Linked DNA regions of Homo sapiens: region 2 is linked to region 1. The links come from fine-mapping of genetic effects on plasma protein levels. A gene starts in region 1. The other region holds a variant in brackets. All regions are shown on one strand. Distances are between the middles of the regions.

What was found. PIP is the posterior inclusion probability: the model's chance that the variant is causal. The UK Biobank Pharma Proteomics Project read protein levels with antibody pairs (Olink). The fine-mapping took linkage between variants from a reference panel, not from the people measured, so its PIPs are less certain.
Region 2: its variant is fine-mapped to the plasma level of the CENPF protein (UK Biobank, PIP above 0.99). The variant lies in the coding sequence of CENPF. If it changes the protein, the assay may bind it differently, which can mimic a change of level.

The regions. Positions count from the first base shown.
Region 1 is chr1:214,601,004-214,606,383 of GRCh38, forward strand. CENPF (centromere protein F) reads left to right here and starts at 2,192. Exons shown (of 20, transcript NM_016343.4): 1 at 2,192-2,318. It also overlaps the pseudogene ABHD17AP3. RefSeq lists a silencer at 2,086-2,295.
Region 2 is chr1:214,619,764-214,625,143 of GRCh38, forward strand. It overlaps CENPF (centromere protein F), which reads left to right. Exons shown (of 20, transcript NM_016343.4): 6 at 892-1,183; 7 at 2,316-2,518. Among named protein-coding and RNA genes, the nearest start is that of CENPF, 19 kb to the left of the region's middle. The variant T/C (reference allele first, on the strand shown) is at 2,415.

The sequences.
Region 1 (5,380 bases):
CATTTGTAGATTTGGGTCTCAGAAAGTTGAAGGTGTTCCTGTCAGAAATCTTATGTTTTCTGTGAACTAGAAAATAAAGTCATCTTCTGAGAGTAAGAATGGAGATGGTTGTTGCAGCGGATTAGAGAAATCCTGAAACTGGGAGAAAGGGCTGTGGAGCAGCATTGAGGCCCAGCTAGACATCCTACATTTAAAGTATTTGCACAGTGCTGGGATTTTTTTCCAGCCCCATTCTGCAGCAATAGTGCACCAAGGGATGATATGGACATTTGCACACATACAAGTTTGGGAGATAGAACAAGAGGCAAGGGAGTTGAGGACACTGGCAAAAGAGTGATTTCAGTGATGAACCTGCAGTCTAATCTGTAGAAAAGATGGGAAGACTCAAAGACACTGGTCCACAAGCAGAATATCGAGGTAGTGGATGAACAATCCAGAGAGAGTAGACTGGCTAACTGAGGGAAAGGACTTAAAAAGAGAAGAGCAGAGAGCCAAAAATGGACCCTTAGAGAACATCTGTCTTTGGTTGGACGGGATCCTCCCCCTACAAAACAAACAAACCAACCGGGGGAAAAATAAAGGGAGGGGAAGGGAAGCATAAAATTAAAGTCAGAGAAATATCACAGGAGTTACTAGAATGGTATCCATCCTATTTCCCTTGTTCAAGAAATGAATGTATTTCTTTATTGTTCATTGTAGAAAAACGAAGCACAAGGCTTGACTATACAGTGGCCACTCAATAGATATCTGCTGAAGAACGAATGAATGAATAGTAAATGCAAATTTCTTATTCAAACCTTAAAAATATCCTCTATTATCTGTCTTTCTAGCTGTTTATTTTTCCTTAAACAGCCTATACATAGTTGAATAATTACTCTGGGAAGCAATGGAATTGTAATTTGTGTTGAAGCCAGACACAATTTGGTTCAAATTCTAAAACTACCAGACACTAGACTGATCATGGCAATGTCTGACAAAAGTTTTCCTCCCCTACCTGCTCTCTCCCCTCCCTTTGGGGATTCGAAGGTAGAAGATAGTAAGAACAAGGCCTTTCCCCAAATAGCAGTTTTATCTCCCAAGATGATCTGGATTTTAAATTACTATGTGCAAAGTTACTAGGGATGCAAAAATGAATTAAAACAGATTTTACTGTAAAGGAATTTTTGAGTCTGATGGGGGAGTCAGACGTAGACATAAATACAAGACAAGACACGGCGAAAATCCTAAACATGAAGTTTGCAAGTTCCAGGAAAGGTCTAGGAAATAATTATCTCTAAGGAGTGGGTGGGATTAGGGAGGTTTTATAAAAAAAGTGACACTTGAATTGGGTACTGCAGGAACAGTCTAATGAAAGGTAAAGTCAGGGGGCTGGAAAGTTTGGTACCTATTGAGGCAGACAACAGCATTAGAGATCTATTACTTTAACAATTAATTGTTTTGCTTCTGCCTTTAGAAGCTTATTTATAGTTTAATAGGGAAATAAAACGAGTATATAACATACATAGAAAACTAGTGGGCTTCACGAAAAGCATTACACCCCGTTTTGAGGATTCTTCTGAATTTTAAATTCTGATGCAGTGTCCTCCCCCCACGCCTTAATCCCGGAAAATAAGTGTTCAGAATCACGTCTTAGAAATATGAACCATAAAGGACAGCATTTAAGAGCGACATCCTGCATTGCGTAGATTCAATTTCAAATTACTGTACTTAGCTTCTATGAGCCTGTTAACTTTTTAATAAAATGAGGATAATACTTTCCTCAAAGAATTGTTAAGAACGACACCGGATAAAGAATGCATGACAAACACAGCACCTAGTATCTATGTCCTAAATTTACGTTTAATTAAGTAGATTGGTACGTGCAGTTTAAAAGAGGTTTCACCAGGCAGCACAGTTCCCCTGGCTGTAGGCGATAGACCACGCCTTCCTAATCAGCGGGCGCATTCCCTGACTTTTGCGGAAATAGCGGTCCAAAACCGCGTCTAGCATTAGCAAAAGCACGTGGTCTCCGTCTCCCCGCAACAACAAAAAAGAACAGTAAACTCCGGCGCAGGCACCTCCAGTAGAGGGCTTGTTTTTAAAATCCATCCGAAAGGGCCAATCAGACGCGGCAGTCTGAGTGCGCAGGCGCGGATTGGTCCGCAGCTACTTAGAGTGACCAATAGGCGTGGAGGTAAGTTTGGTTGAGACCAGAAGCGGGCGAATTGGGCACCGGTGGCGGCTGCGGGCAGTTTGAATTAGACTCTGGGCTCCAGCCCGCCGAAGCCGCGCCAGAACTGTACTCTCCGAGAGGTCGTTTTCCCGTCCCCGAGAGCAAGGTGAGCGTCCTGACTGGGTCCGGATCCTGGCCCTGGCGGCGGGCGGTAGGCGGCGGGCGGCGTGGGGGTGCCGCTGGCTTTTTGCCGGCGGGTACTGGGCGGGGAGGCCTCTGGGATCACTCTCCCGGCCCTGTAGGTGCCGGGGACCGCCCCCTCCCACCCGACCGAACTGGAGAATCCGCCCCGGGATGTGGTTCGTAGGGGTGTCTGCGCCCTTCTGCTCGGGTTCAAACTGGTCTCGGATTAGTGTCCCAGACCCTACTCGGTCACGGACTCACACTTTAGGGGATCATTTTCTTCCTCCGTAAAAGAATTGGAGATGACTAGGTATTTCCAAGCCGCCTTCCCAGTCCCGTAACCAACCTTATTGAAATTCAGGCCCTGGTCCTTTGTTTTATTGAGTAGATGTAAGCTTGAGTTTTGATCTGGTTGGCGACGTGGGGTGCCTATGGTTAGTTACGCGAGCATTTCTCTTTCCCCTCTCTTCTTCCTCCCGTCCACATTTTTTTTTTTCTTTTTTTAAATAGAGATAGGCCTCCCTATATTGCCTAGGCTGGTCTGGAACCCCTGGGCTCAAGGGATCCTCCCGCCTTGGCCTCTGTAAGTGCCAGGATTACAAGCATGAGCCACTACGCCCGGTCCTCCCTTCCACATTTATTTGAACGCGCCTGTGTGCCCGGCTCGGCTGTGTAATGAGGACCCAGAAATAAAAGGCATGGGTCGTGTCCTTGAGCCTGACCTAGAGGAGAAGGCAGGGTTATCATTCTCAGACCCAGCCTTGGTACAGTGCACGGGGACTCTGGCTTTTTGGAGGAGGTGGGGAATTCTGACAACGGGAAAGCAGTGGTGGAGGTGGGGCAGGAGGAGGTCACACAAGAGCTTCCTTGGGGACTAAGGGACTGGGTAGTTCGGGCATGAAGAGTGCCCTCCACGTATTTAAGAGATAAAGATACAGCATTTTCTGGAAAGGACAATAGTCCTGCAAGTCCTCCATGCAGGAACCTTCATCCAGGGCTTTTCTTCACTCCCCACCTCGATTCCCTGTTCCTCAAAAGTAAACTTCTGGGTTTATTTTTTTGTTCTTTTGCCCCAATGGCCCAATACAGGTGGCTGATAGCTGATCCCTTAATGGGCCAAAATCTGCTCTAATCACAGTTAGCTTGGTCTACATCTATATTGTTCTCTATCTTAGACTTTGGAATGGAAAAGCATTCAGCTTGCCAGTCTTCTTTATGTTTATTCCCCTCATTTTCTAATCATCTTTCTAAATTGCTCCTTTTTATATTCTGTTGGCTATAGCATCTTGATGTAATGATTTCAGTTGCTGGCTGAATTGTTTAGGGCAATTACAGTTGTGTGTCTCTGGGTACAGTTCTTTGACTCCTGACAAACTAGATTGGAATGGAGGATATTGAGACAGGGTCAGTTGTCCTTTGTTGGTTGAGAGGCATGTGACTCCTTTCAGTAGTTTTGGGATAAATGGGAGTGGAATACAAGATGCTGTGTTCCAAGAACTGAGAGCTAGAAAAAAAAACAAAACTGGTAGCAAAACACAGCTTTCCAGGGCTTTGATATCCAACTTATATGTTGTCTAAGACCTTTGCTTCTCCCTCTTAATTTTTTTTATTGTTCTTAGTACTTTCATGAACTGCTTATTGTTTTGATAAAAAGTTTCATTGATAAAATCGATTGAAAAAAACCATTAAAATGGCCGTTAACTTTATTTAGTAAAAAAACAAATTCTCAAACTCTTGCCTAAGTAACTGGAAAATGAATGATTTTTCTTTTTGTTTATGTTCTGAAGGCTAAAATAAAGGAAAGTTGCTATATTTTCTTCCAGCTGATTTCTATTTCCTAAGATGTGGCTGAGAAGGAGGTAGGCCACTTCACCCTTTGTACCATAGGCTGAAATATACAAGTGAAAAAGTGTTTTTAAAAAGTATGTAATAGCTAACATATATGGAAAGCTTACCAGGAAAGCTTACTGTTTCTAAGGCCTTAGGAAGTCACCATCATTATTATCCTCATTTTACAAACAAGGGAAACAAGGCATAGAGCAGCTAAATAACTTGCCCAAGGTCATACATCCGTAAGTGCCTGAGCTAGAAGAATCCGCTTTGTTTTTTTTTTTTTTTAAATTTTAAATCTTTAATTTCTGTTTTCACGTATTTTCTTCTTGCTTCCAAAAGGAAAGGAGTGCGTAGCTCTGTTGCCTGTACATCGTCCACAGCCCCTGGGTTGGAGCGGGGTCCCCTGGGCCGCCCGGGGGTCCACATGCAGCCCCTGGGGGGCCGGCGCGGGGTGAGGTCCGGGGGCTGCCTTATTGCTGAGGTCTGGCCGGTTGGTGCCGCCGCTAGGCGAGCTGGCTGGCAGCTCCTGGGAGATGAAGCGACGCAGGCCCTCCAGGTACTGGCTGTAGAGCTCGATGTCGTTGTGCCTGGTGCCCTCCACCCACAGCGGCTCCACCGCCTTGGGGCAGCGCTCGTAGAGCGCCAGCCCGTGCGAGAAGTCGATCACCTCGTCCTCCGTGCCGTGGATGATGAGCACGGGCGACGTGATCTTGGACACCTTCTCGATGTTAGGGAAGGCGTCGAAGCAGTAGGTCTTCTTGGTGTCGGGGAAGGCGACGCGCATGCCCGAGGTGAGCGGCGAATGCAGCACCACCGCGGCACACTCGTAGCGCGAGGCCAGGTCCACGGTGGGCACCGTGCCGATGCTCTGCCCGTACAGGATGATGCTGTCCGGGCTGATGCCGTACCTGGAGGCGCCGGAGCAGGGTCAGCCGCGGCCTCCGACGCGCGCGCACCCTTCCCGCCAGCGGGCGTCCCCGGGCCCAGCTCCGGATGCGACCCTCCAGTCTCCCCACTCAGCCAAGTCAGTGGGTCAGGCCCAGGCTCCACACCAGTCCCGAGGGCCACCCCCAGCCCTCAACACCGCGGCGGTGGGCGAAGCCAGCGGCCCCACCCCGTTCCCTGGCGCTGCCGTTCCCTGGCGTTTCCTAGCTAGGATCTGTAGGGATCCCGCCTACGGAGTGGCCCTGGGGCGGAGGTAGGGGAGGCCCT
Region 2 (5,380 bases), 19 kb after region 1:
AGAATGCAGAAGTACCTCTGGCTTAGAGCTTTAACAATTTTTATTCTTTTCATGACTTTAACCCTCATTTTGATGTCATTAGGATTCTGATATGTAGCAAAGGCATTGCTTATCAAGATGAATAAAAATTAAGTACTCATTCTCTAGTTTGTCCTAGAAATATCATGTGCTTTGTCATCCAGTTCAGTCATTTGTATCAATTCTTCTCTTGACATTGATTCCTAGAGATGTTTTATGGAAAATTTGAGTCTCTAGTAAACATTAACCCTCTTCCTATGGCAAAAAAAAGTGCTTGCTGTAAAAATCTAATGCTGCATTCACCTCCATGTCTTGATATTTGTCAGAATGGAGGCAGAGAGAAGCATAGAAAGAACAATGCAAAGCGGTAGATCATCCACAAATGTATATTATATACTATTAAACACTCGATGTGACTTTTTTTGGGATAGTGATATGGTGGAATGTGAGATTTTTGAAAGAGTTCTTTAGTGTGATGTTTAACTTTGATTCTCTTGGGCAAAGCTATAGGGGGAGGTAACCAAGGACAGGCAAAGAAAAGCCAGTTTTGGAATTCAGAATGAAAGTGAATACTCACATATGTTTAATGGGTTCTAAGAAGGATGCAGAATAAATACTAAGACTTAGCCTATTTTGAATAGATTGGGCATGAGATGGTAGTAGCTTATTCCTTCAATGCTAAGAAGTCGAGCATTAGAACATTCCATCACTGGGTATTAGACTTATGGTTTACTTGACTTGATGAATGTTCTTTGTTGGTATGCAGTGCAACTGTTAACTTCTTGGGATTATGGCTTTATATTCTATCTGAAAATAAATAGCCTTGAGTATATAAGATCTTTAAAGGCCTCTAAAGAGATTCTGTTTCTACAGAAAGCAAGCCAGACTCTTCCACAAGCCACCATGAATCACCGCGACATTGCCCGGCATCAGGCTTCATCATCTGTGTTCTCATGGCAGCAAGAGAAGACCCCAAGTCATCTTTCATCTAATTCTCAAAGAACTCCAATTAGGAGAGATTTCTCTGCATCTTACTTTTCTGGGGAACAAGAGGTGACTCCAAGTCGATCAACTTTGCAAATAGGGAAAAGAGATGCTAATAGCAGTTTCTTTGACAATTCTAGCAGTCCTCATCTTTTGGATCAATTAAAAGCGCAGAATCAAGGTAACATTGAGCTAAGTTAAGTTTAAATTCACTTTGCTTGAGGTAATTTCACAGGTGATTTCAGATATTTTTAATCCCATAAAGTGCTTATGTGTTTTGTTAGGCACATCGGTGTTCAACATCCTAGACTGGTTATGTGAAATATACTGTCTTTTCAATAATGATAAAAGGCATCATAGTGTTGGAATGTAGTTTTATTTGTATTGAAAAGCTGGTGCCTGGAAGCCTCTAAAGTACGTTGAGAGGCTTTGATTTATCTTTCCAGATGCAGGGCGAGTGGGTTGGTTACAGTTTACACTCCCCATGCTTCTCATCTGGCTCCTTTTGTGACCCACAGAACCAGGCTGTGGTCTGACCAGCTTTGGCCAGAGGTTGTGTGTGTGTCTGCAGAACAGCTTTGCTGTGCCCTGCCAGGTTGTCCATATGGGAGCAAACCTGTAACCTTGGCTGCTGTGCCACGCTGCAGCTGACAGCCAAGGGTACCAGGTGGTGTTTTGGAATCTACTCTGTAGAAGATGATAATTTCCAGTGCTGTGATATATTGAAAATCACTGTCAGTGTTCACTGGTGAGAGCTGTCACCTAGCCAATGCCATTGGAACCAATGTTGTGCGTATGTGGGAAAAAAGTGGAAAAAAAATCATTGTTAATTTTGGCAGTATGGGAGGTTCACACTGTCTTGATGTTTACTGGAGGTAAAACTACCAGAGAATATAGGAGGGTGAACTTTTCACTGCTTAGCACTGATTTGCATTGATATGGGCAAAAAACAAATATAGTTTGCTGTTGTGTAAAACTAAATGGTAATTTTAACAAAGGGTGTCATATGTGATGTACTTTTCACAGTCTCAATAAGAAGATAGCGTTCCTGATTTTAGAAAAGCATTCCCCCCACCAAGTTTCTTTGTTAAAATGTAAGAAAATCTGTTTCTCCTGCTTTCTATAGAGTATTTGAATGCAAATGACAATAGAAACTAACTATTGAAATTAAATCCAATTAAAGTAGCTTCTGTATTTAGTGTAAATATTTGTTTCGTCAAAGATTTCAGAAAAGAATAAAACAAATGATAAGTTATGAACATTTTGGGAAAGATATATATGAATTGGAGTGTGATTTTTGTTTGTGGTTCAAGAGCTAAGAAACAAGATTAATGAGTTGGAACTACGCCTGCAAGGACATGAAAAAGAAATGAAAGGCCAAGTGAATAAGTTTCAAGAACTCCAACTCCAAC[T/C]GGAGAAAGCAAAAGTGGAATTAATTGAAAAAGAGAAAGTTTTGAACAAATGTAGGGATGAACTAGTGAGAACAACAGCACAATACGACCAGGCGTCAACCAAGGTACTTGACTTTTCGTGAATTACTGGAGAAATCTTCATCTTTTCATACAATTATTTAGAAAGAGTATTTTATACATAAGTTTATGAAATGTCAGTAATGTTCTTTGTTAATATATATTAGGTACTCTTGATGCAACTGAACTAGAAAGCTGTTTTAAGTTGGGCAGATCCGGGATCAAGCCTGGTGCCGTACTTTCCCAGCTGAGTGACGTTGGGCAAGTCACTGATCTCTTTTATGTTGCAGGGGGTAATAGAGAATAAAGAAAATGTATATATAGCATCTAGCATGATGTGTGCCACATTAAAATAGGCACTTAATGGCACTTTAAAGGAGTTTTAGGACATTTGATAGGATTTAATTAATCTGCTCTTGGGATCGTATATATAGTTGGTCCATTGTACCCATGAGTTCTGCATTCATGGATTCAACCAACTATGGATCGTAAGTATTTAGGGGGAAAAAAGATCGTATATATAGTTGGTCCATTGTACCCATGAGTTCTGCATTCATGGATTCAACCAACTATGGATCGTAAGTATTTAGGGGGAAAAAAGATCGTATATATAGTTGGTCCATTGTACCCATGAGTTCTGCATTCATGGATTCAACCAACTATGGATCGTAAGTATTTAGGGGGAAAAAGAAAAAGGCCGGGCACCTGTGGTTTACACCCGAATCCCCACACTTTGGGAGGTTGAGACACGCGGATCACTTGAGGCTAGGAGATCAAGACCAGCTAGCCCACATGACAAAACCTTGTCTCTACTACAGGTACAAAAATTAGCCAGGTGTGGTGGTGCACACCTGTAATCCCAGCTACTCGGGAGTCTGAGGCACAAGAATTGTTTAAACCTGGAAGGCAAAGGTTGCAGTGAGCAGAGATTGTGCCACTGCACTCCAGCTTGGGTGACAGGGTGAGATTCTGTCTCAAAGAATGGCTTTGTCTGTACTGATCATATACAGACCTTTTTTTCCTTGTCATTATTTCCTAAACAAATACATTATTACAAATATTTTACATAGCATATACATAGTATTAGGTATTATAAGTAATCTAGAGATGATTTAAAGTGTGTGGGAGGATGTGCATAGGTTATGTGCAAACACTATACCATTTTATATCAGGGACTTGATCATCCTCAGATTTTGGTATCTGCAAGGAGTCCTGGAACCAGTCCTTCATGGATACTGAGGGATGACTGTACACCCACCACTGAATCTTCTTAAGACTCCAACGGAGGCCAAGCTTCTTAGCCTGTTATTTTGTTGTTGTTGTTGTTGTTCTTGTTGTTGCTTTGGTCCCAGCCTACCTCTCTAGCCAGGCTTTTCTTCTCTTTTTTCTATTACTCATTCATTTACTGACTCATTTCACAAGCATGTATTGATATTTGTGCCTGCTATATATTAGGCACTGTTCCAGACCTGGGGCTGGAACAGTGATAAATAGACAAAAATCTCCAGACCTGGGGCTGGAACAGTGATAAACCAACAAAAATCATTGCTTTGTGGAGCTTCATCTTAATAGAGGGAGGCAGAAAATAACAAAAATAAAGTAACATAGATAGTATGGTATATGGTAATAAGTATTGTAGAGAAAAATGAATTATTTGACTTTTAATAAACTCTTTAGATATTTCTGAGGCTTTAGGTAAAAACCATTGTAGTAGACATACTTCTATTATTTGCTTTCTTGGGGCAGGTTCTTTCATTTGTTTACTTAAAACTTTTATTTTAAGATAATCGTAGATTCATATGCAGTTGTACAAAATAATAGCTTGTTAATGTGGTGGGTTGCACTGATTGATTTTCACACATTTGAATGAGCCTTGCATATTTGGAATAAACCCTAATTTCTTACAGTGTATAATTTAAAAAATATATTTCTGAATTTTTTTTTGCTAATGACTTATTAAGGATTTTTTGTGTCTGTATTCATAAAGGATATTGGTTGGCTTTCTTTTTTTCCCCTGCCATCTTTGTTTGATATTTGTATCAGGGTATCCTAGTTTCACAAATTAGAGAGTATTCCTTCCTCTTCAGTTGTCTGAAAGAGACTGTGTAGAATTTTTTTTTCTTTCTTTATATATTAAGTAGAATTCTCTAGTGAAATCATTTGAATCTGGAGATTTCTTTTCTGGGAGTTTTAAAATTACAAATTCAATTTTTAAAATAGTTATAGAACTATTAAAATTATCCATTTCATATTGGGGGAATTAGGATAGTTTGTATTTTCATCTAAGTTGTCAACTTTATGTATATAGAGTTATTCACTGCATTCTCTTATTCTTTTGATATTTGTAGTGATATTCCTTGTTCATTTCTGATGTTGGTAATTTGTGTCTTCTCTCTATCTCTGTGTCAGTCTTGCTAGAGATTTGTCAGTTTTGTTGATCTTTACTAATCTTTCTAAATAATCAGCCCATTGGTTCATTGATTTTTTTTTTTCTCTGTTTTCAATTTCATTGATTGCTGCTTGCTTTAGGTTTATATTGCTCAAAAAAATGTCATTAGGACCTGTTGGTTGATGATGTTGTTGAGTTTGTTAATATACTTGCTGATTTTCTGTTTAGTTGTTCAATTCATTGTTGAGAGAGAATGTTGGAGTCCCCACCTATAACTGTGATTTGTCTGTTTCTCCTTTGATTTCTTCCAGTTTTTGCTTCACATATTTTGCAGCTCTGTTGGTGAAGGCATATACATTTGGGATTGCTGTGTCTTGGTGGATTGACCCTTTTATCACTATTTAGTGTCCATGGTAATTTTCTTTATTCTGAAGTCTACTTTGTCTGTTATTAATATAGCCACTCCAGCTTTCCTTTGATTGTTAGCATGATGTATTTCTTCCTCTTTACTTTCAACCTA